Regions from separate parts of the Homo sapiens genome. Here all the other regions are reported to be linked to region 2. The links are microRNA targets in miRTarBase. Many come from high-throughput screens and were not tested one by one. Region 2 holds a microRNA gene; each other region holds the end of a gene's coding sequence.
What was found. The annotated mature microRNA hsa-miR-4691-5p reads GUCCUCCAGGCCAUGAGCUGCGG and lies in region 2 at 1,599-1,621, shown strand. An mRNA with a match to its seed (bases 2 to 7 or 8) in the 3' UTR can be bound and repressed. Matches are read on the target gene's strand: a 7mer-m8 pairs with bases 2 to 8, a 7mer-A1 pairs with bases 2 to 7 and ends in A, and an 8mer does both.

Region 1: miRTarBase lists GORASP1 as a target of hsa-miR-4691-5p. Seed matches in the 3' UTR shown: 7mer-A1 at 1,104-1,110 and 7mer-m8 at 1,693-1,699.
Region 3: the mRNA of SNW1 is a reported target of hsa-miR-4691-5p. Seed matches in the 3' UTR shown: 7mer-A1 at 4,033-4,039.
Region 4: the mRNA of GTF2F2 is a reported target of hsa-miR-4691-5p. Seed matches in the 3' UTR shown: 7mer-m8 at 1,272-1,278.
Region 5: miRTarBase lists AKAP13 as a target of hsa-miR-4691-5p. Seed matches in the 3' UTR shown: 7mer-A1 at 236-242.
Region 6: the mRNA of CFAP20 is a reported target of hsa-miR-4691-5p. Seed matches in the 3' UTR shown: 7mer-m8 at 893-899.

Annotation. Positions count from the first base shown.
Region 1 is chr3:39,093,571-39,098,485 of GRCh38, reverse strand. It overlaps GORASP1 (golgi reassembly stacking protein 1), which reads left to right. Exons shown (of 9, transcript NM_031899.4): 9 at 1-1,887. The coding sequence ends at 250. WDR48 (WD repeat domain 48) reads right to left here. Exons shown (of 19, transcript NM_020839.4): 18 at 4,420-4,612; 19 at 1,822-3,838. The coding sequence ends at 3,743. Among named protein-coding and RNA genes, the nearest start is that of GORASP1, 12 kb to the left of the region's middle.
Region 2 is chr11:68,032,312-68,036,311 of GRCh38, forward strand. MIR4691 (microRNA 4691) reads left to right here and starts at 1,586; the gene lies at 1,586-1,670. NDUFS8 (NADH:ubiquinone oxidoreductase core subunit S8) reads left to right here. Exons shown (of 7, transcript NM_002496.4): 3 at 1-25; 4 at 612-701; 5 at 800-972; 6 at 3,942-4,000. MIR7113 (microRNA 7113) reads left to right here and starts at 553; the gene lies at 553-611.
Region 3 is chr14:77,713,698-77,718,713 of GRCh38, forward strand. SNW1 (SNW domain containing 1) reads right to left here. Exons shown (of 14, transcript NM_012245.3): 13 at 4,670-4,833; 14 at 3,902-4,589. The coding sequence ends at 4,391. It overlaps SLIRP (SRA stem-loop interacting RNA binding protein), which reads left to right. Exons shown (of 4, transcript NM_031210.6): 3 at 2,075-2,182; 4 at 3,799-3,901. The coding sequence ends at 3,864. Among named protein-coding and RNA genes, the nearest start is that of SLIRP, 8.1 kb to the left of the region's middle.
Region 4 is chr13:45,282,538-45,287,553 of GRCh38, forward strand. It overlaps GTF2F2 (general transcription factor IIF subunit 2), which reads left to right. Exons shown (of 8, transcript NM_004128.3): 8 at 905-2,356. The coding sequence ends at 1,024. Among named protein-coding and RNA genes, the nearest start is that of SNORA31B, 51 kb to the right of the region's middle.
Region 5 is chr15:85,743,883-85,748,898 of GRCh38, reverse strand. AKAP13 (A-kinase anchoring protein 13) reads right to left here. Exons shown (of 37, transcript NM_007200.5): 37 at 1-4,271. The coding sequence ends at 4,222. Among named protein-coding and RNA genes, the nearest start is that of LINC02883, 12 kb to the left of the region's middle.
Region 6 is chr16:58,109,838-58,114,853 of GRCh38, reverse strand. CFAP20 (cilia and flagella associated protein 20) reads left to right here. Exons shown (of 6, transcript NM_013242.3): 5 at 1-44; 6 at 824-1,262. The coding sequence ends at 829. Among named protein-coding and RNA genes, the nearest start is that of CFAP20, 17 kb to the left of the region's middle.

The DNA.
Region 1 (4,915 bases), not on the chromosome of region 2:
GGCTACATGGTCTGGGTCAGAGTTTGAGGTCTCCTTCCTGGACAGCCCAGGTGCCCAAGCCCAGGCGGACCACCTGCCTCAGCTGACTCTTCCTGACAGTCTCACCTCTGCAGCCTCACCAGAAGATGGGCTGTCCGCCGAGCTGCTTGAAGCTCAGGCTGAGGAGGAACCAGCAAGCACAGAGGGCCTAGATACTGGGACGGAGGCTGAGGGGCTGGACAGCCAGGCCCAGATCTCTACCACAGAATAACACCCTGGGCTGTGACAAGGCCCATGATGACATTTCATGAGGCCCAGATGTGGGCAGGCAGCCCGGGCTGCACTATGCGGTCAGGATTCCTTGCTGCTTTGGTGGGACATGAGGCCTCAGTGGGTGGTGAGAGGGGGCCATGGGCCTTGTGGGAGGATATCTTTTGGCCGTGTACCCTCAGGTCCAGTGCTTGGTCCTGCTCTGGTCACTGGGGCTTCCCAGGAGGCAGCAGGGTCTGGTCATAATCCAGTGTGAAGATGAGGTGAGGAAGGAAGGGGTTGCTGTCCAGTGTTGGCCTGGTCGCTTTGATTCTTCCTGCACAGCTCAGCCCACCCCATCTGTACTGGAAGGGACCCTGGAGCCCTGGGACCACCCCCTTTCAAGTCCCAAACACTGAGTCCTCTGTCATGTGTCCTTGTCCCTAGGCTACAATGCTACACTTGGCTCAGGCTGATCACCATGCTAGTCACAGGAGGGAGAGAGAGGCAGTGTACTTGCCCCCATCTCCTGGAGGGAGGTGCGTTGGAAATTCTAGGCCCTTCAGCAGAGACCCATTTGTGCCCAGACCACAATATTTCTTCTTCCTCAGGGACTACATGCCACAGACCTGTATCCCCAGTGGCAACTCCTGTTAGCTCCCAAACTTAAACAGTGATCTCTTCTAAATATACAAGGCATCTACCCAGCCCCAATAGTGAATAAAAGTCACAAATTTAAGTTCAACACCCTAAGCAATTTCTCAAAGCCAGTCTACCTGACTAGGTCTATCCACGCACGGTTCCCAACCCCAAGGGGGAATTAGGGGATTAGATTAAGAGTAGGTAAAGACCCTTTTGTTCTTTCCTGTTGTAGGGGAGGAAGCTGTTCTCCCCACCCCAGGTGCCTTTGGAGGTTAAGGCTAGGTTAGGCCCTGCACTCCACCTGGGGACGGCCCCTCATCACCTGAAGTCCTCTGCTGTGTTGACTGGACCCTCAGTTCCCACACTGCTAATTACTATGAAAGCTGCTCTGGCCTCGTCTTCTAGCTTGTGCCTAGTTGAAAGTCTCACCTTTACAGGATCATTTGTAATGCTGGTGTACATGCAGGGAACTCACAAGCTGTGTCAGGTATGCAGGACAAGGAATGTCTGCTCTGGGGGGCACAGGCCAACTATATGGAGGGAGGGTCCCAAATTAGCAAACCCTTCATTTAAAGCAAACCCTTGTCAAGCCTACCAGAGCAGCTGATACGTGTGCATAACAGTGAGGCATTGTGTCCTGGATCGTCTGGGAGCCCAGTGTCAAGTCTGCTGGAATGCAGGAAGTAGAACAGAATCGCCACAGGACTGTTCTGGGGCCAGCTTCCCTTAACTCTGTAGCCTGGCAGTCTGACCCAAAGTTGCCCTCACCCAAAGGTTCTGGCTCTTCCCTCCCTCACTTTTACTTTCCCTTCCCCCATAAGTTGGAGGATAAAATGGGTATCAATGCTAATATTTCCAGGGAGAACATGAAACCAGAGGTTTCTTTCTTTCTCTGTAATCTGCTATGAAAGAAAATAACAAATGAAAATAAATGTGTACTACACTTTGAAATATTTTAACTAAAGCCTTTATTCTATACAACTGTGAAATACAGATTTTTACCCTTTTGGCATTGCAGACTGTCGAATTTTCTGGAAACTGTATTACGGTTTGACTGGAGGGGAAAGAAATACAATCATGCTGGGGGTCAGATCTATGACAGGAGGGGAATGCAGCCACCCAAGGCTTAGCACACAGGGCAAAATGACCCAGCAAAACCCATTTCTTTGCTCAAAGGCCCCTCGGGCAAACACAACTGAGGGCTGGTAAATAATTTTTTTTTTCTTTGCCATTAATTCACAACTATTGCTAAAAAATGTGCACCAAAAGCACACTGTTGTATCCAACAGATAGAAAGGACTTTTAAAAAAAAAGAAGCTGGTTGCTCTCTGAGGAAGGGAGAAAGACCATTTCAACTTATTAGAAATGTGGCCACGTCTTTGCTCACTTCTTCAAAGTGCAGGTGGCAATGGCCTGTCCAGTTTCCAAAAGAAGCTGACTAGCAGTGAGGGAACCCTGTCTCTGCAGTTGTGCGATCAGAGTATCTTAAATAGTAAGGTATGGCCTTAGGCCTATCAGCTGCCCCCAGCCGAACCTGTGAAGATGTAGAAAAGAAAAAACGTTCCCTGCCTCCCTCCCTAGTCCCTGCTATGGTGGAGGCAGGCCACACACAAGCTAGGGAGGCAACTGGACTGGAATCAACTGCCCTCTGAAGGCACTTGTGCTTCTGGCTTCATACAGGAGGCTTGTCTTACAGTTTTATGGGGGTGGACCACTGATTTACTCTGAATACAAATGACCTTGGGGAGAATCCAAAGTATTTTCTGCCAAAAGTTGAAGTGTTTATCCCCAATAAGTTACACTCTATACAAGATCCAAATGATTCTATGAAAGTGTTAGATTGTTAGAACAGTGAAAAGAAGATCTGGATACAGGTACAACAAAAACCTGCATATAAAACTTTGGAAAAACAAATATGTATACTTCCAGGATATGAATATCAAATTAACTCACTATGATCTCCCTTTATTCTGACACCATAAATTTTAGGTAACATTTGAATGAAACTGAAATTTCATCATGGTCTTAAATTTTGATGGTGTCATGCTGCTCATCCAGAGCAAGAACCTGTGGTCTCAGCTCGCTTTGTGTAAATAAAACTGGACACAGTGGAGGAAGGAGTGAAACTGCTGCACCTCCCTGGGGTTGCCACAAAGCCAGGACATCATGGGAGGTGCAGCATCGCTAGGCATGGGCTGCACAAACTCCGGCCCAACAGTCCAAGTGCTATGATCCAGCACCTGGAATTTCAACAGATCTTCCTACAAGAACACATCTGAGATGCAATATTAACAACAAGCCCAACATTAATCTTTTATTATGAAATGGGCTGGTTCTCAAATTGTGCAACAGCAAATTCCCATTAAAAATAACTGTCTTAAACGGTGAAAACAATTTGATTACTTTATATGACAAACTTGGAAAAAGCCTTCATATCTACTGCATGAATGGAATGTACTGTTTTAGAAAAGCTACAGAGTGTGTGGGCTTAAAGTTGAAACAGAGACAGTTGTGGCCCGACTGAGGTGTCTCTAACAAGTGTTAATGGGTAGATAAGGTCCTTTGAAACAAAAGGAGGAAGCAAAGTCTGCACTGGCCTGTTGTCAGTCTTCTGTACATCTTGAAAGACATAGTCTGCTTGGGGCTCTTCTGCTCTTGCACTCTGCTTCCCTGGGGACAGCTTAATCTACACATGGAGACTGGTTTCTATATTACATCTCGATTAGTCACTTCAATTGAAAGATAATCTCGGTCCATACCAATCAGCCGTTAGAAGTCTTGCTCCCGTTGGGGATCAGTGGGCTTCCTAGGACTACTCTTGGGGCCATAGAGGAAGGTCGTAAATGAATATCCAGGAGCATTAGCCCAGCCTTCACGTGGACTTCTGACGGTAATGGAGGGTGAGGTCTCCACCGCTCTTCCATATGAAGTGTTTCACTGTTCGAAGGTCCATATTTGGATCCAAAACCTGAATAGCCAAAATTAAATTTAAAAATTTCAAAGTCTCTAATATCTAAAACCTTATCATTAACTCAGGGACTCTCATCAGGTGATCCAGCTTGCTCACTCCTCCCCTATGCCTGGTATCCAATTCTTGCTGTCACGGCTTCCATGCATGCGGGAATGAAATTGAGCTTAGTGAGATGTACATCTTTTGTGACTATGCCAGAAACACCAGGCCATCTTTCAGCCATTCCTCTGAGGATACGTTTTGAGTGCATCTTGATTTAAAAAACAGTTCTGCCATTTCTCCGCACACCTTCACTCTAAATCATAAACATGGCACATGCTTTTTGCAAATCAAGAAGACCATGTGTCTTTTTTCTTGTCAGAAAAAAAAGCTACCAGCACATCCACATTTGTCTATGTATCCCTTCTCTGAAAATCTCCCCAGCAGTAAAGAGGAGCTTTAGGGTGGGCTTTAGGTAGGAGAGGCCCAGGGCTCCTTAGAGCCCCTCTAAAAGTAGAAGCCCCCCACCCAAAGGCATGTAACTCTTTATGAGCACCAGCACTGGAAAAATTGGGGCTGTAGTCCTCAAGTCCACTTACCTGGTCCTGGCACAAAAGTTCAATTTTCTCCTCTGCCAACACAGCAATATCTTCTTCTTTTTCCTGTTCTCCTGGTTTTTCATTATTAGAAGAGCTAGTGGTTTGAGACTCATTATCCAAGTTGATAATTTTTTCATAAACATGTTCCATAACTTTTCGGACTTGGAGCATGTCACTAGCAGAGAGTCTATCTCTGTAAAAAAGCAATGGCATATTGTGACATCAGGGAAATCACTAGATATTATTTATTCCATATTATTTTTCTTTGATGCAAACATTTTAAAGATGAAAAATAAACCAATAAATGTTTTTAGTCATTACCTTAATCCATTTTTAGAGCTGCGGAAAGATTTTCTACAGTGTCCTTCTAAGACACAGTTTATGTACAACTAAATGAGATTAATATGTGTTCTTAAAACTTGACATATACAGGCCAGGTGTGGTGGCTCACGCCTATAATCTCAGCACTTTGGGAGGCCAAGGCAGGTGGATCACT
Region 2 (4,000 bases):
AGCAGTGCAGTGGCAGCCACCTACAGTGAGTACCTGGGTGGCCTCTAGCCTCAGGTGTTCCTGACTGGTCCTGCTGGAGTAGGGGAAGAGACCTGAGTTCCAGTCCTGGCTTTGTCAGGGGCGTTCTTCTCTGAGCCTGTTTCCACTTTTAAAATGATTATGGTGATGGAGACTGACTCTGATTCACAGGGGCAGGGTCCATCATTGCCGAGGTTAGCATGTGTGATCTCAGAGCTCCCTGGGTGTGATGGGGAGGGGGTTGCCAGGTGTGAGCCATGGGTACCTGTGCCTATTGCCAGTCCCTGGTGAAGGCAAAGGCTCAAGCCCCCCACCTACCCCCCTTGATTCCTCTTTCAAGCCCTGTTGGGCAGGGAAGTGCGTCTGGGCTCCAATGGCCACCCAAGCACAGGGAGAGGTAGGCACGGACGGGCTCAGGCCAGAGGCGGCCTCCAGGGTCCTTGCTGAGGCTGGGGAGAGGTGTGGTGAGTGTACAGCCCCTTTGTAGCCCAGCAGTTGCACCTGGAAGTGAGGGCCAGGCTGCTCTCCCTGAGGCTCCAGGGAGACAGTGTGTGAGGCCTCTTGCCATGGCCTCCCTGCCCGCCTCTCTGCAGAGTATGTGAACATGCAGGATCCCGAGATGGACATGAAGTCAGTGACTGACCGGGCAGCCCGCACCCTGCTGTGGACTGAGCTCTTCCGAGGTGCGTCCTGGGCATGAGGGGACAGGGAAGGTGCCGGGTGGGCACGGATGCATGGGGGAGGAGGGTGCCCCTGCCCACCACACCCGTGCTGCCCACAGGCCTGGGCATGACCCTGAGCTACCTGTTCCGGGAACCGGCCACCATCAACTACCCGTTCGAGAAGGGCCCGCTGAGCCCTCGCTTCCGTGGGGAGCATGCGCTGCGCCGGTACCCATCCGGGGAGGAGCGTTGCATTGCCTGCAAGCTCTGCGAGGCCATCTGCCCCGCCCAGGTGAGCCCCTGCCCCAACCGGCCACCACGCCAGCCCCTGCCACTGGGAGAGGGAGGCCAGGCAGCCCTAGGCCCAAACCCTAGCCCCTGCTTGATGTGCGTCCCCAGGAAGTCCCTTTCCCCCTCTGAGCCACTTCCCTCGTGAATGGGAATGATGAGGGCTTGTTACCAGAGCACAGAGTCAGTGAGTTGGCAGAGTGAAGCTTCCAGCCCTGGGCAGGCGCCTGACACACAGAGGTTCCCCCTTGGGGTCTGGCCAAGGGTGTGACCCCTGGGCCTCTGAGCCATGGGGTGACACCTGAGGCCATCCACGCCTCCCTGGATGTAGCCACCGTTTCCGGAGTCCTGCTTGTGTGCCTGTTGCAGCTTCCCTTCCCCAGTGGCTGCTCCCCTGAGGCCCGGCTTTCCGTTCTCTTAGTGGGTCTCGTGCTTACCCGTGGGGGCCAGGCCTGCCAGCACGGGAACAATATGACTCGGTCAGAGCTCTGGTCAGACCCCTGTGTGTGCCTGGCAGGAGCCCCGGCAGCCGCCGCCGCTACTTTCTGTGTGCACAGCAACCCCTCCCAGTGTTCTGTGACTCGGGTGGCTCCTGTCCAGATCCTAGTTTGTCCTCTGGAGCACTCCCAGGTCCTCCAGGCCATGAGCTGCGGCCCTGATGTCTCTACTCCAGCCACGGACTGAGAGTGCATAGGAGTGTCCCCAAACAGCAGTCACGATGGTCACAACCTTGGCTTCCAGACAGTGAGTGCTGTCCACAGACAGACCCGGTGCTGTGCCATGTGTGTGACTCACAGCCTCTCCTGTAATCTCCACAACCCCTCGAGGAGGTCGAGGTTATTGTCTCCATCTTTATAAGCACTAAAGGATGAGCCTGCCAGCCACAGGTCCCACTGTGAGTTGTGGACACTACATTTCTGGGATGGGGGCATATGAGAGTCCTTGCCAAGCACATTTGAAGGTTTTCCCAGCCAGCCCCTCCCCCAGCGGGCTACCCAGGAACTGAGAGTTAGGACGTGCCCTTGAGTTTGGGCTGTGCCCCCACTTGCTGTGTAGCTTTGGGGAGCCCCTCAACCTCTCGGAACCTTGTTTTTCTCATCCATCAAATGGAGAGAAGTAGATTTAAGGCACAGGATTGCACCCAACAGTGTAGGCATTCTTGGCGATGTTGCAGGTTCGGCTCCAGACCATCGGGGTAAACTGAGTCACACAGCTGTTTTGGTTTTCCAGTGCATTTAAAAGTTAGATTTAGACCGGGCACAGTGGCTCATGCCTGTAATTCCAGCACTTTGAGAAGCCGAGGTGGGCGGATCACTTGAGGTCAAGAGTTCGAGACCAGCCTGGCCAACATAGTGAAACCCCGTCTCTACTAAAAATAACAAAACTTAGCCGGGCACGTTGGCAGGTCCCTGTAATCTCAGCTACTTGCTAGGCTGAGGCACGATAATCACTTGAACCGGGAGGTGGGGGTTGCAGTGAGCCAAAATTGAAAAAAAAAAAAAAAATTAGGGCCGGTTGCGGTGGCTCACGCCTGTAATCCCAGCACTTTGGGAGGCCAAGGTGGGCGGATCACAAGGTCAGGAATTCAAGACCAGCCTGGCCAACATGTTGAAACCCCGTCTCTAGTAAAAATACAAAAATTAGCCGGGTGTGGGGTTGCACACCTGTAGTCCCAGCTACTCAAGAGGCTGAGGCAGGAGAATTGCTTGAACCTGGGAGGCGGAGGTTGCAGTGAACTATGATTGCACCACCATACTCCATCCTGGGCCACAGAGCAAGACTTCGTCTCAAAAAAAAAAAAAGGATTTACACTGTACTGTAGGCTGCGAAGTGTCTAAAACACAATGTATATACCTTAATTAAAAATACTTTAGGGGCCAGGCACAGTGGCTCACACCTGTAGTCCAAGTGCTTTGGGAGGTCAAGGTGAGGGGATTACTTGAGCCCAGGAGTTTGAGACCAGCCTGGGCAACATGGCAAAACCCCGACTCTACAACAACAACAAAAAATACAAAAAATTAGCCCCTGTAGGCCCAGTTACTTGGGAGGTTGAGGTGGGAGGATCGCTTGAGCCTGGGAGGTTGAGGCTGCAGTGAGCTATGAGCTGCACCACTGTACTCCAGCCTGGGTGACAGGGCAAGACTCTGTCTCAAAAAACAAAAACAACAACAAAAACTTTATTCCTAAAAAGTGCTGACCCAGAGATAAGAAGCAAGCACATGGTTGGTAAAATGACATCAGTGAGCTTGCTTTATGCAGGGTTGCCCCAAACCTTCAATTTGTAAAACTCAAAATATCTGGAAAGCTTGGTGAGGCGAGGCGGGACTGTAACTCAGCACTCACCGCAGGGTGAGACCCTTAGGGCAGCGGGTGCTACACTGAACAAAGCGGTGAACAGCCCCCTCGTGAGAGGGGGTTCTTGGCAGATGACGCCAGCAGCTGACAAACAGGCAAGGCAGGCCGGGCACGGTGGCTCACGCTTGTAATCCCAGCACTTTGGGAGTCCAAGGTAAGCGGATCACAAGGTCAAGAGATCGAGACCATCCTGGTCTACATGGTGAAACCCCATCTCTACTAAAAAATACAAAAATTAGCTGGGCGTGGTGATGCACACTTGTAGTCCCAGCTACTCAGGGGGCTGAGGCAGGAGAATCACTTGAACCGGGAAGGCCGAGGTTGCAGTGAGCCGAGATTGTGCTGCTGCACTCCAGCCTGGCGACAGAGCGAGACTCTATCTCAAAAAAAAAAAAAAAAAAAAAAAAACCAGCAAGGCAGGGACGCCAGCAGGGCACGTGCTGAGGAGACAGGCGCGAGCACCAGAGGTGCAGGGCGGCCTCTTAGCCGGAGTCCAGGAGGCCTTTGAGGGGAGAGGGCTTCTGGCAGACCCCAGGGGTGGGGATGAGCAGTGACAGGGGCCCTGGGGGCTGGGATGTGACAGGGCAGCGTGGCAGTGTCTGGTGGCCCCTCCCGCAGGCCATCACCATCGAGGCTGAGCCAAGAGCTGATGGCAGCCGCCGGACCACCCGCTATGA
Region 3 (5,016 bases), not on the chromosome of region 2:
CATCACTGGGATTGATTAGATATTAAGTCACTGATGCAATGGAATTTTATATAGTTGAATAGAAAAGTTGGGCACATGTATTATGGACATGAAATATTTTCTGTAAGTTTGAAAACTTCAATTTTTTCAAGAGCATTTAAATAAAAAGTTCCTTGCAAAAAAATGAATAGATTTTTATTGGTCCATAAATAAAATAGGACCTGCAAAGAATAGATCTTAGATTTAAATAAAAGGCGGCTTTGATGTTGGTAAAACAAAATAAAATATGACAAAAAAAATATTTTTTTGTTCCATTCATTGTACTCTAGTTGGAAATCCTGGTTCCTTTTTTGAGACAGGTTCTCTCTCTCACTCAGGCTGGAGTGCAGTGGCACAATCAAGTTCACTGCAGGCTTGAACTCCTGGGTTCAAGGGATCCTTCTGCCTCTGCCTCCTGAGTAGCTGGGATTAGTCGTGTGCCACCACACCTGACTAATTTTTTGTACTCTTTGTAGAAATGGGGCTTCACCATATTGCCCAGGCTGGTCTCGAGCTCCCGCACTCAAGCAGTCTACTCACCTCAGCTCCCAAAGTGCTGTGATTACAGGCATGAGCCACCACACCTGGACTGAGTTATTTTTTTTGAGACAGCCTTGCTCTGTCGCCCAGGCTGGAGTGCAGAGGCGTGATCTCAGCTCACTGCAATCGCTGCCTCCTGGGTTCAAGTGATCCCCCTTCCTCAGTCACCCAGATAGCTGGGACTACAGGCATGGGCCACCACACCCAGCTAATTTTTGTATTTTTAGTAGAGATGGAGTTTCACTATGTTGGCCAGGCTGGTCCCAAACTCCTGACCTCAAGCCATCCATCCACCTCAGCCTCCCAAAGTGCTGGGATTGAGCCACTGCACCTGGCCTATGTTTTAATATAAACAAATTTCTTAATGCCTTTGACTGTGGAAGTGGTCACATGACAATAAAGGAATGCTTTAGAAATTGTTGTATCTACAATGAATGGATCATTGGGACATCACCAGAAACTTTCCGTCTTCTAGGTTAATCCTTATAAAGTTATCCTTGAAGTAGAGGAGCAATTGTAAGATTTTGTTTTTTTTGGCAAAGCACAGCATGACTTGAATGAGACTAATGAGGACCAGTTTGTCATCTACAGGGACTAGACATCTTAATATCTGTTTTCTGTCGAAGGGCTGGAGGGGCAGGGTACATCCAAGCACTCTAGAATCTGTTTTCCGTATGCGATGTATAGGTTGAAACTTTTGCACAAGGGAAAATAGCAAAATTGTTTAAATTAACCAGAAGTCTGTAACTAGGTTGAGTAAGGGCTAAATATTATCTTTTCTTGTTTTTCATTAGGAACACGTGATGATAGTCGTGGTGGTGGTGAGGGTGACTGGATTCAGAAATGAGTGCAACAAGGCTTTGAGGCTTAATTTTCTAGTTTCTAGAAACGAAGCTTAGAACAAGAGTACTGATCAAAATTTCCCTTAGCTATTACTGTTAGTATGGTTTGCATCTAGAATGACACAGAAAGCTCATGACCCGTATCTTCTCTAATGGCAGCAAGGAAAACAGGAAGCTTAACAACACAGGGATTTAGCCTTGGGTAATCAGGAAGGGTGTAAAGCAAGGTTACTGACACTTATAAATGTCTGTGATCCGATTTTTGGCTGGGCATGGTGGCTTATGCCTGTAATTTCACTACTTTGGGAGGCCCAGATGGGAAGATTGCTTGAGCCCAGGAGTTTGAGACCGGCCTGGGTAAGATGGGAAGACCCCATCTCTGCAAAAAATATAAAAAATGAGGCAGACATGGTGGTATGTACCTGTGATCCCAGCTACTGAAGAGGCTGAGGTGGGAGGATTGCTTGAACCCAGGAAGTTGAGGCTGCAGTGAGTTGCGTTCATACCACTGCACCCCAGCCTGGGTGACAGAGCAAGACCCTGCCTAAAAATAAAATAAAATTAAATTAAAAAGTCCGATTTTTGGCAGATGAAAAAGTTGGTAGTTTGATTTGGAACTCATGGAAACTTTCTGAAGTTCATGATTAATCTTTTCCTATATTTTGAATTTTTAGGACAAGGAGACTGGCTTTCACAGAGGTTTGGGTTGGGTTCAGTTTTCTTCAGAAGAAGGACTTCGGAATGCACTACAACAGGAAAATCATATTATAGATGGAGTAAAGGTAAATTTATTTCTATGCCAGATACATACATGATATACATGTAGGTACTATTTAATTATGTATCAATTAAATAGATCATAAATGTGGAATGATGGGGACTTGGAGAGATTTGTAACTGAAGCTGCCTTAATGCTTGTTAAGAATGGTGGGGTGGAGGCTGGGCACGGTGGCTCACGCCTGTAATCCCAGCACTTTGGGAGGCCGAGGCGGGCGGATCACAAGGTCAGGAGATCGAGACCATCCTGGCTAACACGGTGAAACCCCGTCTCTACTAAAAATACAAAAAATTAGCCTGGCAAGGTGGCGGGCGCCTGTAGTCCCAGCTACTCGGGAGGCTGAGGCAGGAGAATGGCGTGAACCCCAGGGGGTGGAGCCTGCAGTGAGCCGAGATTGCGCCACTGCACTCCAGCCTGGGCGATAGCGAGACTCCATCTCAAACAAACAAACAAACAAAACAACAACAAAAAAAGAATGGTGCGGTGGTAGGCCAGGCGCAGTGGTTCATGCCTATAATCCCAGCACTTTGGGAGGCCGAGGCGGGGGGGATCACCAGAGGTCAGGAGTTTGAGACCAGCCTGACCAACATGGAGAAACCCCATCTCTACTAAAAATACAAAAAAAATTAGATGGGCGTGGTGGCACATGCCTGTAGTCCCAGCTACTCAGGAGACTGAGGCAGGAGAACCCAAGAGACAGAGGTTGCAGTGAACTAAAATCGCGCCATTGCACTCCAGCCTGGGCAACAAGAGCAAAACTCCATCTCAAAAAAAAAAAAAAAAAAAAAATGGGGGGTGGTAGAGTGCCCAGTTTTAAAAGGTCCAGGAAAGTACAAGATGACCCTTTAATGGGTAGCAAGATATGTAACACAGTGGACATAACAGTCTACTTTTCTTTTTTCTTTTTGAGAGTCTTGCTCTTGTTGCCCAGGCTAGAGTGCAATGGTGCAATCTTGGATCACTGCAACCTCCGCCTCCTGGGTTCAAGCGATTCTCCTGCCTCAACCTCCCGAGTAGCTGGGATTACAGGCATGCGCCACCACGCACTGCTAATTTTTTTTGTATTTTTAGTAGAGATTGGGTTTCATCATGTTGGTCAGGCTGGTCTCAAACTCCTGACCTCAGGCAATCCGCCCACCTCGGCCTCCCAAAGTGCTGGGATTACAGGCGTGAGCCACAGCGCCTGGCCAGCAGTCTGCTTTTCAGGTCAGGCAAGCTGGGGCTGAAATCTTGGCTTACCCACCATGTGATCCTGGGCCAAACTGATTTACTATTTTATTTTAAATTTTAGTTTTAATGAGACAGGGCCTTGCTATGTTGCAGGGTGGTGTTGAACTCCTGGCCTCAAGCAATCCTCTTGCCTCAGCTTGCCAAAATGCTGGCATTACAGGCCTGAGCCACTGCCCCTGGTCTGATTTACAATTTTTAATTGAGGGTTAGGGAGTCATAATACCAACAAAGATGGTAAAAGGAATTTGAGGAGAAAACGAAAGAACAAGGGACAAATAAAAACTGCCTGGGTTATTCATTATTCATACTGACTCCCTAATAAAGTGATTTTCAGTTTGAATGTTTTTGCAGACATTGCCTTTCCTCCCTTACAGTGCTTATTTTTTTAAGGTCCAGGTTCACACTAGAAGGCCAAAACTTCCGCAAACATCTGATGATGAAAAGAAAGATTTTTGAGACTGCAGCCTATTAATAAAGTTAACATAACTGAGAATTTTGTCTAAATGTTTTTATTTGAAACAAATAGTTGCACCAAGCAAGAGGTTACTTTGCCCACTCCAAATTAAAACAGAGCACAATAGGGGCAAAATTTATTTGGCAGGACAGTTCCAGTATGTGAACATCTTCCTCCTCACTGTGGTTGGGGTAACTTTACTCATATGCAGCTGTTCTTACACAAAACATTAACCCCAAACTACTAGTGTCACATAAAAGTAAGTGGTCTTGACTTTGTATGTGGGGCAGCATGTTCTATAAATGCTGAAAGGTGGGAGAAGCACAAACACAACCCACTCTTTAAAAAAAACTAAATAATTCAAAGTAGAATTTTCTATCCCCCCCATTTCTCCAGTAATAAAAAGTAGTGCTGGGATCTGGCACCCAGATTTGGTTTTTATCCTGACCATTTACAAAGTGTTCCCCCATATGACTTGCATCATTAGGGTTATGGGTAAGAGTTCATTCACTTTGGAGAGACCTGTGCCTATTCCTTCCTCCTCTTCTTGCCTTCATGCTCGTGTTCCTTGGGGCGGCTGCTATCTGAGGGTCTTTTAGAGCCACCATGCTGTTTGGCTTCTTCCAAAAACTTGTCCAAACCAAAAGGATCTTCCTCAAACTGCACTGGTCCTTCTCGGCCTCTCTGTCTACGGTCTGAACCAGAAAACTCCTTGTCGGGAACAAATCTAAGGAAAAGGAGAAAAAACTATGAACTACTTTGCTTTCACCAGTGTAAACACTGAAATTGAGTTGTATGGCTTGGCACCTGTTGGTCTTTATTCTGGCTTCTAGGTCATCACCATACATGTCCTTGTCCAGATTTTTACTGGGCCTATAAATACTCTGGGCCATATCTTTACCACCTCTCCAGGCTTGATCATAAACATTATAAATTTCATCTTCTCCACCTGCAAATCCACTGTCCATACCCTGTGGAAAAATGGATGACATTAAATAAAAGTGTAAACATTGTTTATCAAAAGCTGAATCATAACATGTTTACAGTAAACCCTTGCTAATGTACAGCTCACATTTTCAACAATCTGAACTGCAAATTAAAAAGTCTTCATTAAAAAACTGGTAGCACATGAACTTCATAACAACTTTGGATTC
Region 4 (5,016 bases), not on the chromosome of region 2:
GTTGTTGCCCAGGCTAGAGTGCAATGGCACAGTCTCAGCTCACTGCAACCTCTGCCTCCTGGGTTCAAGTGATTCTCCTGCCTCAGTCTCTCTAGTAGCTGGGATTACAGGTTCCCACCACCATGCCTGGCTAATTTTTGTATTTTTAGTAGAGACGGGGTTTCACCATGTTGGCCAGGCTGGTCTCGAACTCCTGACCTTAGGTGATCTGCCCACTTCAGCCTCCCAAAGTGTTGGGATTACAGGCGTGAGCCACCAAGCCCGGCCTTATTATCACTTCTTACTCCCTTATCTGTGTTGGCAAGCTTGGCTAAAGTACAAATAGTAGTAAATACAAATAACAACTCTCCTTCTCACATAGGAAAAAATAAGTGGGTGGCCTAAAAACAAATTTGAGAACTCACCTTAGAACTGAGAATTCTGAATACCTGTCATATGCCTGCTTGATAGAATATTCTCAAAAATGTTGCTCATTTTTTTTATATGCTACTGCTCCTGAAACTACTGGTTTCAATCTGTGAACTGAGTCCCATGAGGCCACTGAACTCAAGGGCAGATTACCCTTGGTGTACCGTGTCACACTGAGTGAGGACCAGTAATTTTTTCGTGTATTTCATGTAGTGTTTTTTGTGTTTTTTTTGTTTGTTTGTTTTAGCTTTTAAGTTGTTGGCATTCAGGACTTTCAACTCCTTTAATGCACATGATCATATATTTAGTGCAGTTACCATGTCGCACATGTAGAATCAAAAGGCAGTTTATTGAACCTCCTTATAGAGAAATCTTGCTGAGCTTTTAGGATCATAATTTTTATGGCTTGCATATGTGCTTTGGCATATCATCTTATTTTAAGTTTTGTCCCCTGCATTTATAATCTCATTTGTTAGGGGTTTTGTTTTTGTTTTAGGTGTACCTGAAGGAAATCTTAAAAGAAATTGGTGTTCAGAATGTAAAAGGGATCCACAAAAACACATGGGAGCTGAAGCCAGAGTACAGACACTATCAAGGAGAAGAAAAGAGTGACTAAGAAGACTCCTAGCCAGCATGCTAGTGAAACGACTAGCAGCGATGCTATGCAAAAGGCGCTGATACTGGAAGGCTTGAACACCGTATGTTAATAGGGGTTAAGTGACAGTACTTTGATTTCTCTCGGTAAATTTTTTAAACCTGTAATTCTTGTAAAGTTTCTTAACTGTTTTTTTGAGGAGAAAGAACAGATTTATTTATAGACTTAACTTGTATTAAACCAGATTATTCACAGTAGGAATAGGGGTTGGAGGATTAAGAGGGTTTTTCTTAAATATTAGCTTTTAATGTGTACAATTAGGAAATTTTTTTAAGTGAGGACTCTCTACCCTTGCCGTATCTAAGGAGCTGAGGTAATACAGATCCAAGGAGAATTGTATAGCAAGAAAAAAACAGTCAACTACAGAAACTCTTAAAAGGAATAAAAACCCAAAGTTCCTTATTTTGAAATTGTCAAAGAACAAAGCGGTGTTTTTCTTTTAAACAGGTGATCACGTTTCGTGTTCATACTCAACGTTAATAAAAGGAGAGAGTTTGTAGTGAAATGGCAGTGTTCATCATTGGCTTATTTTACCGTAGTGATGCTGAGATGAGAAATGTGCAGGATCATGGTCAGTTGATGTTTCTTTTATTTGCTTTTAAGATAATTAGAAATTAAATATCTTTCCAAAATTTGAAGATATGTCTCCCCCAGTCAGATTATAAGCTTCTCAAAACTGGCTTGCCCCCAGAATTTTACTGCTTACCCAGCAGACATGTATTGACCATCACATGGCAAATGATATCAGCAAATCAAAAGATGGGCGTAGGGGTCCAGCCGAGACAGAAAACGTTAGTTTCAATTCCTGGGGCATTAAAATGTTGCTTTTCTCTTTCTCTTTAATTAATTTTTAAATGAAAACAATACATGTATATGTTAGTTTTTTCTAGCACAACACAATATTATATATTAAGCGATCCAAAATCATACTGTCAAGACCATCAAACAAAACAAAGAAGCTTAAGTGAACTAAGCACAGGGAAAAGTTGTTTTTTCACTCGTTCATTTTGTCATCTGCTTCTAGATGCTGCAATCAAGAAGTAGCAAATGCCCAAGTTGCCATAGTGTTTGCAGGAAAAAAAGAGAAAAAATAATAAAAATAAGGAAGGAGCAATGCCAAAAATTGAAGAAAATATTATATAATTAAAGCAAGAAGATATCTATCCATTGAGAAAAACAATTTTTATATTATTTGCTTTTAGCAGCAAAGCATTAGAATTCTGAGATTGTTATAGCACTAAGAAGATTTTTATTCTGTGTACACACTGAAAAATAAAATTCTGAGTAAAGAAAGTGTTCCCATTCCCCACTCCACCTCAGATTTTCTTATGTACAGGCACCAAATGTGGTATGCCCATCACCTTCTAGTTCCTGATGACTGGAAGCTCTGTGTCAGGAAGCCCGTGGATAATGGTCTGATAAATCTATATAGAACTGAGGATTCTGGATACCTGCCATGTGCTTGGTTCATAGCATGTATCTTCCCCAAAACCTTGTTTTTTTATATATTTGGTACTGCCCTGAAACAGACTGTGTCTCCTCTGCTGATGTCTTTTGTTTTGGGGACAGTGCCTGCCATATTGAACGAGGTGGCTGTGCCACAAGAGTTCCCAGGGCAGAGCTGTGTCTTATTTGAAGCTGTGCTTTGGTTTTTTTGTAAACTGGTTTTTTCTGCTTCTTTTAGTTGCCTGTTACCTCAGCACACCTGATTGCATGAGCTTGAGTCTCTTAAACACTTATCTCTTCAGTAGGATACATAATTTAGGTGCTAGACTGATGCTGTTTCTGATTACGTTTTTGTTTGTTTGTTTGTTTGTTTTTGAGACAGAGTCTTGCTCTCTGTTGCCCAGGCTGGAGTGCGGTGGTGGTGTGATCTTGGCTCACTGCCACCTCTGTCTCCCAGGTTCAAGCGATTCTTCTGCCTCAGCCTCCCAAGCAGCTGGGATTACAGGCGCATGCCACCACACCCGGCTAATGTTCGCATTTTTAGTAGAGACGGGGTTTCACCTTGTTGGCCAGGCTGGTCTTGAACTCCTGACCTCAAGTGATCTGCCCACCTCAGCCTCCTAAAGTGCTGGGATTACAGGTGTGAGCCACCGCACCTGGCTTAAATTGCTTTCTTATTTAATGTTAAAATGTGGGTGCTGGCCATGGAGGAGGTTTTCCCTTCCACCCAGGTTCCCTTATTCTTTTATTTCAGGACTCTCTTACTCTGACAAACAGACTTTTGACAAAGATCAATAAGTAGGAATCCTAAACCCTTATAAACTGTGAGAGTGAAAGGAAGACAGATAAAGAAGATGCACACTTCTGGTAAGATGTCACATCATAAGACAGGAAGGCCATATTTTTTTCTTTTTTGAGACAGATTCTCGCTCTGTCGCCCAGGCTGGAGTGCAGTGGTGTGATCTGGGCTCACTGCAAGCTCCGCCTCCTGGGTTCACGCCATTCTCCTGCCTCAGCCTCCGTTGTAACTGGGACTACATGCGCCCGCCACCATACCCAGCTAATTTTTTTGTATTTTTAGTAGAGATGGGGTTTCACCATGTTAGCCAGGATGGTCTCAATCTCCTGTCCTCATGATCCACCTGCCTCAGCCTCCCAAAGTGCTGGGATTACAGGCAAGCCACTGCTTCCGGCCAGGAAGGCCATATTTAATAAATGATATTGTTAAACTCAACTGATACACTGAGGGGATGCTTTAAGTGACAAAATATAATAAAATTATAGTTGTGGCTGGCCATGGTGGCTCATGCCTGTAATCCCAGCATTTTGGGAGGCTAAGGCAGGCAGATCATGAGGTCAGGAGTTTGAGAAAAGCCTGGCCAACATGATGAAACCCCAACTCTACTAAAAATACAAAAATAAGCCAGGTGCAGTGGCAGGCACCTGTAACCCAGCTACTTGGGAGGCTGAGGCAGGAGAATTGCTTGAACCCAGGAGGCAGAGGTTGCAGTGAGCCGAGATCTCGCCACTACACTCCAGCCTGGGTAACAGAGCAAGACTCCGTCTTGGATGGGCGAGAGGGGAGATATAGTTGCTGGGCATTGGAAAGATTTGAAATTACATGTTACCACAATAACTTCTTTTTTTTTTGAAACGGAGTTTCGCTCTTGTTGCCCAGGATGGAGTGCAATGGCGCAGTCTCGGCTCACCATAACCTCCACCTCCCAGGTTCAAGCGATCCTCCTACCTCAGCCTCCCGAGTAGCTGGGATTACAAACATGCGCCACCACGCCCAGCTAATTTTTTGTATTTTTTAGTAGAGACAGGTTTTCTCCATGTTGGTCAGGCTGGTCTCGAACTCCGGACCTCAGGTGATCTGCCCACCTCAGCCTCCCAAAGTGCTGGGATTACAGGCGTGAGCCACTGCACCCAGCTACCACAGTAACTTCTAAAGTGATAGATCTGCTGGGTGCAGTGGCTCACGCCTGTAATCCCAACACTTTGGGAGGCCAAGGCGGGCAGATCACCTGAGGTCAGGAGTTCAAGACCAGCCTGGCCAACATGGTAAAACCCTGTCTCTACTAAAAATACAGAAATCAGCTGGGCATGGTGGTGCAAGCCTGTAATCCCAGCTACTTGGGAGACTGAGGCAGGAGAATCACCTGAACCTGGGAGGTTTCAGTGAGCCAAGATGGCACCACTGCACTCCAGCCTGGGCGACAGAGCAAGACTCCATCTCCAAAAAAAAATAAAAAATAAAAGTGATAGATCTTTAAAAAGGGAACAGATTGCACTCTTTTATATCATGAGCAGTACTTATGGATTTCAGCACAAGTACAACTGTTTCTAATGGTCTGTGAGCAAATTTCTTTGGAAGCTTATTTTCATCATTGTTGGTACATATCAGTGAAATAATAGTAAACACTTATCAGGCCATATGTGCCTAATAGTATGGTAAGTAGTGTAAAATATTATCTCATTTGATCCTCACAGTGCTGAGTGGTAAG
Region 5 (5,016 bases), not on the chromosome of region 2:
GCTCAGGCCGGGGAAGGTGTGGGGGGTGAGTGCTTCCTGCAGAAGCCCCTCCGGACTGCAGCACAGGTGGTCCCACCTGGTTGTAGGGCAGGTCACTCACTTCGGTGGCAGGGGACACAGCCAGTGGGGGGTTGCACGCCTTTAACCCTTAGTGAGATGGAGAAGTAATTCATGGCCTATCAATCTTTTGACAATTAAATTAGATGAGTACTTGGAAAGATGCCTTTATTTTCCCTTCCTCCCCCCCGCCTCCCTTTTATGGCAGCATTAAAACACTTTTCATTTTAAAGCCTGGCCAGCAGGCAGTAGATTCCAAGGCTCTGGTTAACTAGGAATGCTTTGCTACATTGAAAGGAAAGTTCAAAACCAAGCCCAAACTCCCTGCCCTCTTCTTTGTCTCTGAGGATGGACGAGAGCGACGGGGCTGGCTGGGACGCATCCATAGGTGGCTGCGCACCTAGACGGTCCTGCTGAAGGAAGGCAAGGCACACAGATCTCCAGCAGCCGCTGCCCCAATTCCATCCACAGGGTTATTTCTAGGCTCCCACATTCCAAGGACATCCAAAACGCAGAGGGTGCACATCGTTCTGCAGTGTCTGGGGTCACCTCACAGCCACCCTCTTTGTGACCACTTGAAGCCCATTCACCAGGACTGTCTTTCTAAACTCCCTCCCAGGGCCTGCCTGGCTGTCCTCTGGGCACAGCTGGGCCACCATCATTAGAGTAAACCTCAACTCCAATGCAAATACTAAAATCCTTGGGAAGACCTGGCTACAGAAAAAGAGCCCTAGAAACAAAAATGATGAAATAGAAAGCACTTCTGTGGACAGCAACTTCTGGATCAAGTTCTGGCCTCTAAGGTTATAGTCCCACCCTCTACTAAGGCAGGGTCTATCTAGTTCAACCCTTGCATGCACTAACACCTCCCCTCCCACATCAAGAAACAACGCCAAAGGTCTCAAAACTTTGTGCTCACGACTAATACTGAGGCCTCAGGAAGGTAACAAATACGGGAGAAAATGAGCAAAGGGGCGACTCTGAATAGTATTACCCTGAGACACAGAAGGGGAAAAAAGTTAAGATTCGTACCTTTCCAAAAAAACCTTGGTAAGGATTCTTCCCCCCAGATAGCTCTCACGGGGGTAGAGGGAATACTGGCAAAGGTTGAAAGTGGCAGTTTGCATGTTTTTAACCCTCTCCATTTTCTAAGAAGAAAACACAGTCAATACATTTGATTGTCTTGAAAATGAAGCCAACCGATGAGAGCATTTAAAGTGCACATGTCACCTAACGACAACGACTGAGATGACTGGAATTGAGAGAAGACGCAGTCTCCTTCCAGGAAGCTCACTCGATTCTGGAAATCTGGGGGCTCTGGATAGGAACTCCATCTTTCCCCCAAAACTTAAGCACAGTTTCAGGCACGTGATTTCTTTAGCTTGATGGAGAACATGGTGTCCCGGCGTGGAAACAGTATGGGGAATTCAGTCCGAGTCACCCCAAAAAAACAACCCCTTCTCATGTGATAGAAACCAAGACAGGCCATTAGATCCAGCAACTAGAGCACTGTCAAGGCCATGAGCAAAAGCACAGGCAGCCACCATCCCAGGTAAATCCCCAGGACAGGAACAAATCCCCCTGAGGACAACTTCCAAGGGGGGAAGAGAGATGACAAAGGTATGTAAGCACAGTTCTTGGTAAGCGGTTCTGTTGCTGCACTGCAGACTGTATTCCTGGATGAAGTTGGGTGGTTTGAGGGAATTCCGGGCACTACTTTGATTTTAAACTTGTCCAACCAGAACCTGACCAAATCGTTTTGAGTGGGGTCTGGGCAGATGTGAAATCTCTATTTTTAAAAAAGACCACCAAAACAACCAAAGCAGATGAAACATCACAGCTGGGCGGGGAGTAAGAGACCCTCTAACATTGATGTCAAGCTCTGTGGCGACGTGCTCTAACTTCAGCATCCACGGTGTTTTTGTGAAGAGCACGTACGCAAGTAAATCCCATCAGCACCAACCTCGTATTGTTCCAAACCCGGAGAACAGGGGCACCCGGCCTACATTTACAAGGAGAAGAATGCAGGTTCAGTACTGCCCTCCTGCAAATCCCAGGAGGGGAACTCGGAGCCAGTGCCCAGAACAGACAGCCAAGCCCCGGGTAGATCTCAGGAAAGTCACGACAGATTCAGCTGTAACTTGGAGTTGTACAAATAGGTGAAAGAAAGAAACTTAACTTTTTGTTTAGGGTCTTTGCAAGGGGACATATTTTCAATAGAAAAATCAGCAGGTTTTGGCCTTTGGTCTGTTTCTGAAGGGTGAGTATTCTCCATGACAGAAAAAGGCAAAGGTAGGTCAGAGGTGGCGAGTTTCTTCATTCTCAAACAAGGGAGAAGACATCCTTTGATTAAAGAATGAGGCGGGGTGGGGGAGGGAAGGACATGGACCCCCTCCCTTTAAAATTTCATCTGGGCCTTCAAGGCACTTCAAAAGACACAGAGTGAACAGTGCTGGCTGCCACTTCACTCGGTATTGACTGGATAGTTTAGACTGTTGGGCTAGACCTGGCTCACCCTTAAAAAAAAACAAACACAAACACACAAATACAATAAATAAAACAAATGTAGGCTACAAATTTTAAACCAGACCTCTTTCAAATAAACTGAAAGATAAATATCTCCATCTGCAAGGCCAGCTTGCAATTCATCAATAAGCACCAAGTTACAGATTTTTCTTTTTTTAAGTGTGCTCAAAAGCCCCATGCTTCCGAGGGGCAAAAAAGCAAGAATTGAAGGCCACGTTGGAAGCACAAAATTTTCCAGGGCCTCCCTTCTGGTGTACGGGGCCTCAGAGGGCAACATTACCATGAACTGTCCTGCACACACCAGCTGGGGAAAGCCTCAAGTGAACAAAGATGAAAACACGGTGGGAAAAGCAAAAGCAAAGCCGAGCAGCAGGCAGCCATCTGTATCTGCTTCCAGGGGCAGAGTACAATTCAACAACAGACCTTTACATGTATTTTTGAAGAAATCCAATTTTGCCAAGGCCTCCTAACATAAGAAGGGCGCTTTCACAACCACGCCTTCCGGGCCAGCTCCTCTCCAGATCTGCACTGGCAGGAACTGCTACACATGGCTTCACCCTTCGCCTGAACCCACTTCTCAGCCAGCTGTCCTAGCTTCAGAGCACAGCTTCTGCCTGGCCTGGGTGCGAGGCTGACCCCTGGCAGTGGTGTGCCCTCACCCAGCAAGGGCCAGACAGCTGCTGTCTGGGAGAGGCACGACGGGGGCTCAGGAACACAGCCAGGAGGCCGTGGCCCCTTCTGAGTGGTCAGTGACAATCAAAAGGTGTCACGCTGCAGGGATAATGGTGAGTAGGCCTCTTCACTTTATCCATGGCCAAAACATGTGGGTAAACATGCTGGAAAACCAGGATATTTCTTCTGGATCTGATGACAGAATGAGATACTATGGGTTGTTTTGTTGCTTTAGTGCCTGAAACACCGAGATCGAGGTGGTGCACATCACGTCTTTTATACACATCAAGCCTTCTCTCACTGGTTTCACAAATGTTTGTCATCCCTAAAATGAAATGAGAAATACATGCAAAACACGGGTGGTATGTGCCCGGGATGGGTTTAGAGGGAAACCAGTCTCTGAGGAGTACTGGGTGAACTGCTGATATGCGGGGGCTCCGGGTCCGTCCAGGCACTGCCCTTGTGCTAAGTTGACCAGACGCCTGGTGCAGACTGGGCCTTCTTCTGGCATTCCCCGTGTGTATATGCAGACAGGTCCCCATGTACGTACACAGATCAAGTCCAAAACATCTGCTGTTTGGTTTTGTGTTCCCCCAAATAAAAGGCATTCGGAGGTTCAGACCTTACTTGGATACACTCTTTCAGCCTTTAGGAATTCCTGACGTGTCCAAAACCATCACCTGTACTTACGAGGCCATTACTTTCAGTGTAATCCTGAGTAGGGCCAGCCCAACCTGAGAGTCCTGGGCAGTCACAAATCATGGCCGAAGCAGAGTCTGGGCCTCCTTCCCCACCCGACACTCAATATCATCTGTTGCTTATTGTCCAGGACCTGGGGCCGCCCAGGAGGACTGGACGCTGAGGAGCAGTGGGCGTCCAGTGTAAGAGACTTGTGCACGCGGGGACAGCAGGAGAGGTGGGCTGGCCAGGATCAGGAGGCAGCTGCCTCAGCAGAGAGGAAGAGGGTCAGCAGAAGATCTCTTCACCCTCTGCTGATACTTCTGACGCGGGACCATCTGGAAATGTGAAAACCAAGAATGAAAAAAATTCAGAAAAACTGCTCCTTTCATTGAACTTCCTCCCCATCCCAAAGTCTTCTGTAATGCAAACAGGCGACTGGGGCTTATGGGCAATTAACTCTTCTGCGCACCGGGGTTTCTGAACAAATTTGGTTAATAAGGTTCTTAAGTGATATCCTTCACTGCCTAATGCTCCCTTTAACTTTTAAATAATCACTAGAATTTATGAAGAGGCCAGGAAAATGTACTTTTTCTTTAACCTCCCACACAGAAAGGAGAGATCAATCCTAAAGAGAAGGATTCAGGGGAAAAAGTGGTACATGAACAGGGAGGCATTTAGTGGAATTCAGCCGCAGGCTCTGTGGCCGCTGGCACATTAGTTAGCCTCTGTGAGCCTCAGTTTCCTCACTTCTCTTGGGGTTAGCAGTGCCAACTTCATACAGTCATTTGAGGGTTAAATCACCAAATGCTAGCTGTTACCAATGACTACTCTAGGCCCAGAAAGGCAAGGAGGACTTGAATTACTTCATTGAGGGGTGAGCTCCAGTTCCTCGATCGGATAATGCCTTGAAAATGAAACCCATGCTCTCTGCTTCTGCACACGTGCCACACAGAGTGGGTTCTTAATGTTCGCTGCATGAGTGCTCTTAGCAAGCGGAGCTGGTGAAAAGGATGGCAGTTTGGCTTTTGAGCATCTGAACTGTCCCCTTTTCAACCCCGCCCCATGCCACTAAAATCTACC
Region 6 (5,016 bases), not on the chromosome of region 2:
CGGCAGAGTTCAAACTGTATCTCCCAGTTCAGAACAAGGCAAAGGTAAGCCAGTCTTCCCCAGAGGAAGGTCCACCAGTGAGTGGGGGGAGCTGTGTTCCTGGAAGGTGCTCTGGTCTAAGAATTCAGCTGCAGAGCCTCTCTGTGTTGACACTTTGGGGTGCCTTTATATCGCAAGATCTTAGGTCTCCTTCCAGCACTGAATCAGGAATGCTCCTGTGAAATACTCTGTTACTGCTGTTTCCCCTCTCCACGGTGAGAGGGGATGAGGCACTTCCTACTACTGGCTCACAGAACTTCAGAAAATATCTTAACTTTTTTTTTTTTTTGAGATGGAGTCTTGCCCTGTTGCCCAGGCTAGAGTGCAGTGGCACGATCTCAGCTCACTGCAACCTCTGCCTTCCAGGTTCAAGGGATTCTTGTGCCTCAGGCTCCTGAGTAGCTGGGATTACAGGCGCCTGCCACCATGCCCAACTAATTTTTAATTTTTATAGAGACGGGGTTTCACCATGCTGGCCAGGCTGGTCTCAAACTCCTGACCTCAAGTGATCCGCCTGCCTCGGCCTCCCAAACTGCTGGGATTACAGGCGTGAGCCACCGTGCCCAGCCCCATCTTAACTCTTAATCAGCCCAAAAGTATTATCAGCTGATAGGTCCCTGCTAACACAAGGGTGGGTGCTTCCCTGCCTGTGTGCTGCAGATGTGTGTCCATTCTCCACAGTCACTGTCCACTCAAGTGTCACCAGAGGCAGGGGGCCTGTGACACTGACCATCTATTTTCTAGTAACTTAAACTGATGCCACTTCTCTGTTTTTTCCCTTCAGCAATAACTGGAATTGTGACTCGAGGGATAGACCCCTGGATGTGACTCTTCTTTTTAAAAGGAAACTATGTGGAGGACGATGCAAAAACATATTTATCTTAGTTTGCTCTGCTGTAGTTCTGTTATTTATACTTGGTGTTGCTTGTCATGGACACCGGTGAACATGCCGTAACTCTGTGACTGCATTGTAAGTGCAGTGGGGGTAAGCAGTCCTGTGAGTGGCGCATGAACGCTGGAGCTTATTCCGCCGCCTGCCCCAGTGTGGGGGGAGATACCTTTACCATGAACTTACAGAATTAAAGATGGCCCATAAGGAATTCCAGACCAATATTTCTTCCTGCGGTTTATTCTATGTTTTATATATTATCTAAATATATGTATATGCTGTGTCATACTCATAATCTGGAAATGAATAAAGTGATATATTCCTGGTTTGTAAATTTGTTCCTAGTTTGTCTTTTTTCATGGTGATGTTTGTTTCCTTTGTGATATGAAAAGAGAACTATTTCCATTGAACATCTTATACATTTCATGCTGTGAAATGTCTTGTATTAAGTATCTAAAGAACAAGACATATTATGCAGCTGACCCTTGAACAACACAGGTTTGAACTGTGCGGGTCCATTTATATGAGGATTTTCTTCCACCTCTGCCACCCCTGAGACAACAAACCAGTCCCTCCTCCTCTCCCTCCACCTCCTCCTCTTCCCCTCCTCATCAATGTGAAGACAACAATGATGAAGACCTTTATGATGATCCACTTAATGAATAGTAAATATATTTTCTCTTCTTTATGATTTTCTTAATAACGTTTTCTGTAGCCTACCCTATTGTGAGAATACAAAATACAGTATGTAATTCATACAAAATATGTGTTGAATGGCTGTTTATATTATCAGTAAGGGTTCTAGTCAACAGAAGGCTATAGTAGTTAAGCTTTGGGAGAGTCAAAAGTTATACATAGATTTTTGCATAAGGGGGTCGGTGCCTCTAACCTCTGAGTTGTTCAAGGGTCAACTGTATAAACTGGTTCAGAACAACTTTGAAGACTAAATGGGAAAAAAAAAATAGTATGTGACCAGTGGAATCATCTTGCTAGGGGTTGGGTCCTAGGTTGAGCTTAAGACAGAATGACATAGTCTAAATTGCACCTAAAGCATTGGAGCAGATCACCATTTCTCTATTTGAGTTCCCGCTGAAGTACTACTGGCCTTGAATGTAGGGACTTAAAGAAAAATGTTTCTTTTTTTGAAACGGAGTCTCACTCTGTCGCCCAGGCTGGAGTGCAGTGGCAACATCGCAGCTCACTGCAAGCTCCTCCTTCTGGGTTCACACCATTCTCCTGCCTCAGCCTCCTGAGTAGCTGGGATTACAGGCGCCCGCCACCACGCCCAGCTAATTTTTTTCTATTTTTAGTAGAGACGGAGTTTCACGGTGTTAACCAGGATGGTCTTGATCTCCTGACCTCATGATCCGCCCGCCTCGGCCTCCCAAAGTGCTGGGATTACAGGCGTGAGCCACTGCGCCCGGCCAGAAAAATGTTTCTTTAAACGCTGGAATCGCATGAGGGAACTGGAACCTTACACCACTTTTCCCACTGTGCTTATTCTGGGCAGATGCCTGTTGAGTGGAATGACACTGGCACTATTGCCTGCTTTTTTCTTTTTCTCTTTTCTTTTTTTTTTGGTTAGGCACAGATGAATTTGCAAAAGTTAAGCACTGTATATGATACAACTCTACCACATGCAACATTTCTGAGGGGAAAGCAATTTGAGGGCAGAGAAAAGCACTTATCAGCATCCCCCTATTAGGTGGTGTCCTATATGATCTTGAAGGACACACAACTAATACAGTGATTACCTGGGCAGAATGATTTTGTTGTGTTTTTTTAAATCACTTGTATACTCTCTTCTACTATTAAAAAAAACAATGTTTTTGGCCAGGCGTGGTGGCTCACGCCTGTAATCCCAACACTTTGGGAGGCCAAGGCAGGCAGATCACTTGAGGTCAGGAGTTTGAGACCAGCCTGGCCAACATGGTGAAACCCCATCTCTACCAAATATAAAAAATTAGCTGGGTGTGGTGGCGCGCTTCTGTAATCCCAGCTGCTTGGGAGGCTGAGGCAGGAGAATTGCTTGAACCTGGGAGGCAGAGGTTGCAGTGAGCTGAGATAGTGCCACTGTACTCCAGCCTGGGTAACAGCAAGACTCTATCTCAAAAAAAAAATTTTTTTTGGAAAGACATTTTTGTAATAAAAATTTCAAAGTTAATGCAAGAGCAAAAGGCTATTCCAGATTCTGTGCCCTCCCCAGTCACTCCCCGGGGTTTGCTGTCATTGCACAGACTGGAACTGTGGGCACCTGCCATTTTGACTTTGGTTAGAGGTAAAAACATTAAGTTCTGGGATTTGTCATTACCATTGCTGCCTTCTGAGAAGTTAAATGGCAGGAAGCACGCTTTCCCCACATCCGTATCCTCCAGAGTATGCTGTGGGGAAGCATGGCCAAGTCTCTGAGGAGGCAGGGGCTACAGGAGGTGGAGAAGTGGAGGGGAGGGTGCTCCACAGCTACCTGATGAGACAGTTGTCAAGTGCCTGAAACTCAGGTGGGCGCAGTTAAGACAACTTTCCCCTTTTTCCTTCTGCTGGTGACCAGCCTGGAGCCACCTTCTGGAGGATGCTGCCCCTCTCCTTTGAGTCCCTAGTCATCAGCATCACAGAACACACCCCCTCAGCCCAGGTGACAGAGCCTGCTCTTGCAGGGCTAACTCTGGTCAAAACTGAACGTCGTCCTGCTTCCCTGTGCTTAGCATGTCAGCATCCCCCTCTTAGGCAGTGTGCCTGTCTCCTTCACTTTCTTGCTTACAATAGGAATCCTCAAATGGCTGAGTGGGTGGAGGGGTGGGCAATAACCAACAGAGTGTCTAGCCTCTGGCCACTGTCTAGTGAAATCTTCCCTCCAATCCAGACTCGATTATGGCATGAAAGATGCTTTTGTGATGACAAGAAAACCGCGTTAACTTCTCATCTCTTCTGGGTGCCAGGATATCAGTGAAGTGCTCCTGGGGGTTCAGAGCAACACAGGGAGGCACTCTCCTCCACACAGAGCCTCTTTCACCCCAGGCACTTGTTAGACCGTGTCTGGGGATTACCTCACCACCCTTTGGGGTGGTAGGTGGTGACTTCCCAGATGCCTCACATACCCATCCCAGAGGAAGAAGGAAGCGAGGGGCCCCGGGGGTGATGAGAGGTATTATCTGAGCTGGCCCCAGGCCAGGGTGAATAGTGGTGTCATGACTGCACAGCCCCTTGCCTGCAGCTTTCCAGCTCCCCAGGAAGACGACAACCTCCAGTGAGGCTGAGGGAAGAGGGAATGACAGGCTGCTGGGCTGAGGCGCCCTCATGGAGTTTGGGCCTGGGTGATCTCGGATCACGGTAATTGGAGCAGGCAGAATTGCATTATCCAGCTCCTTGGAAGTCACAGTGTGTTTTAGAAGGAATTGCCCTCTAAATGAGAGAGTGTTAGTTAATTGGCATGAACTTGGAATAGCACACAGCCGTTCCCAACAGGGCTGATTCTGGGGGAGAGTAGATTTACTCTGGCCCTTAATTGCCCCTGGCCCGTTGATTGCTTCCTCTATAGCCAGGCTAGAAGACTGGCCGGCGCCACACCAGTCAGCTCCTGGGGCATTTCTGAAGGTTGCAAGAATCCCAGAGAACAACCCCAAACCGATGTCCCTAGCCCCTCAGTGGCTTCACCCAGAAGCCCTAAGTGTCAGGAAATTCACTGAAAAAGATCTTGCAGCTCTTGTCTGCATCCTCATCCCCTCATTTTACTGATCAGGACACTGAAGCCCAGAGAGGGATGGGCTAGCCCCTCTAGAAACAACGGGGTGGAACGAGGACCCCATGCTCCTGAGGAGACCCATATGCCATCCCTGTCCTCTTTTGTGTTGGCATCCCCTTGCATCAAGCACTGGAGTCAGCTCTGCCCAGCAGTGAGGGCTGGCCTGCCCAGTCACTATGTGGTCACATATTAGTTGAACACAAGGGTCTGAGGCTGACAGTAAAAATCTCATTTGTGTTTAACCAGGGAATCATAAAAGTAATACATGCTCATGGTACATTCATGAGCTCATGGTTCAAAGAATATGAAGGGCTGGGCACGCCTGTAATCCCAGCACTTTGGGAGTTCG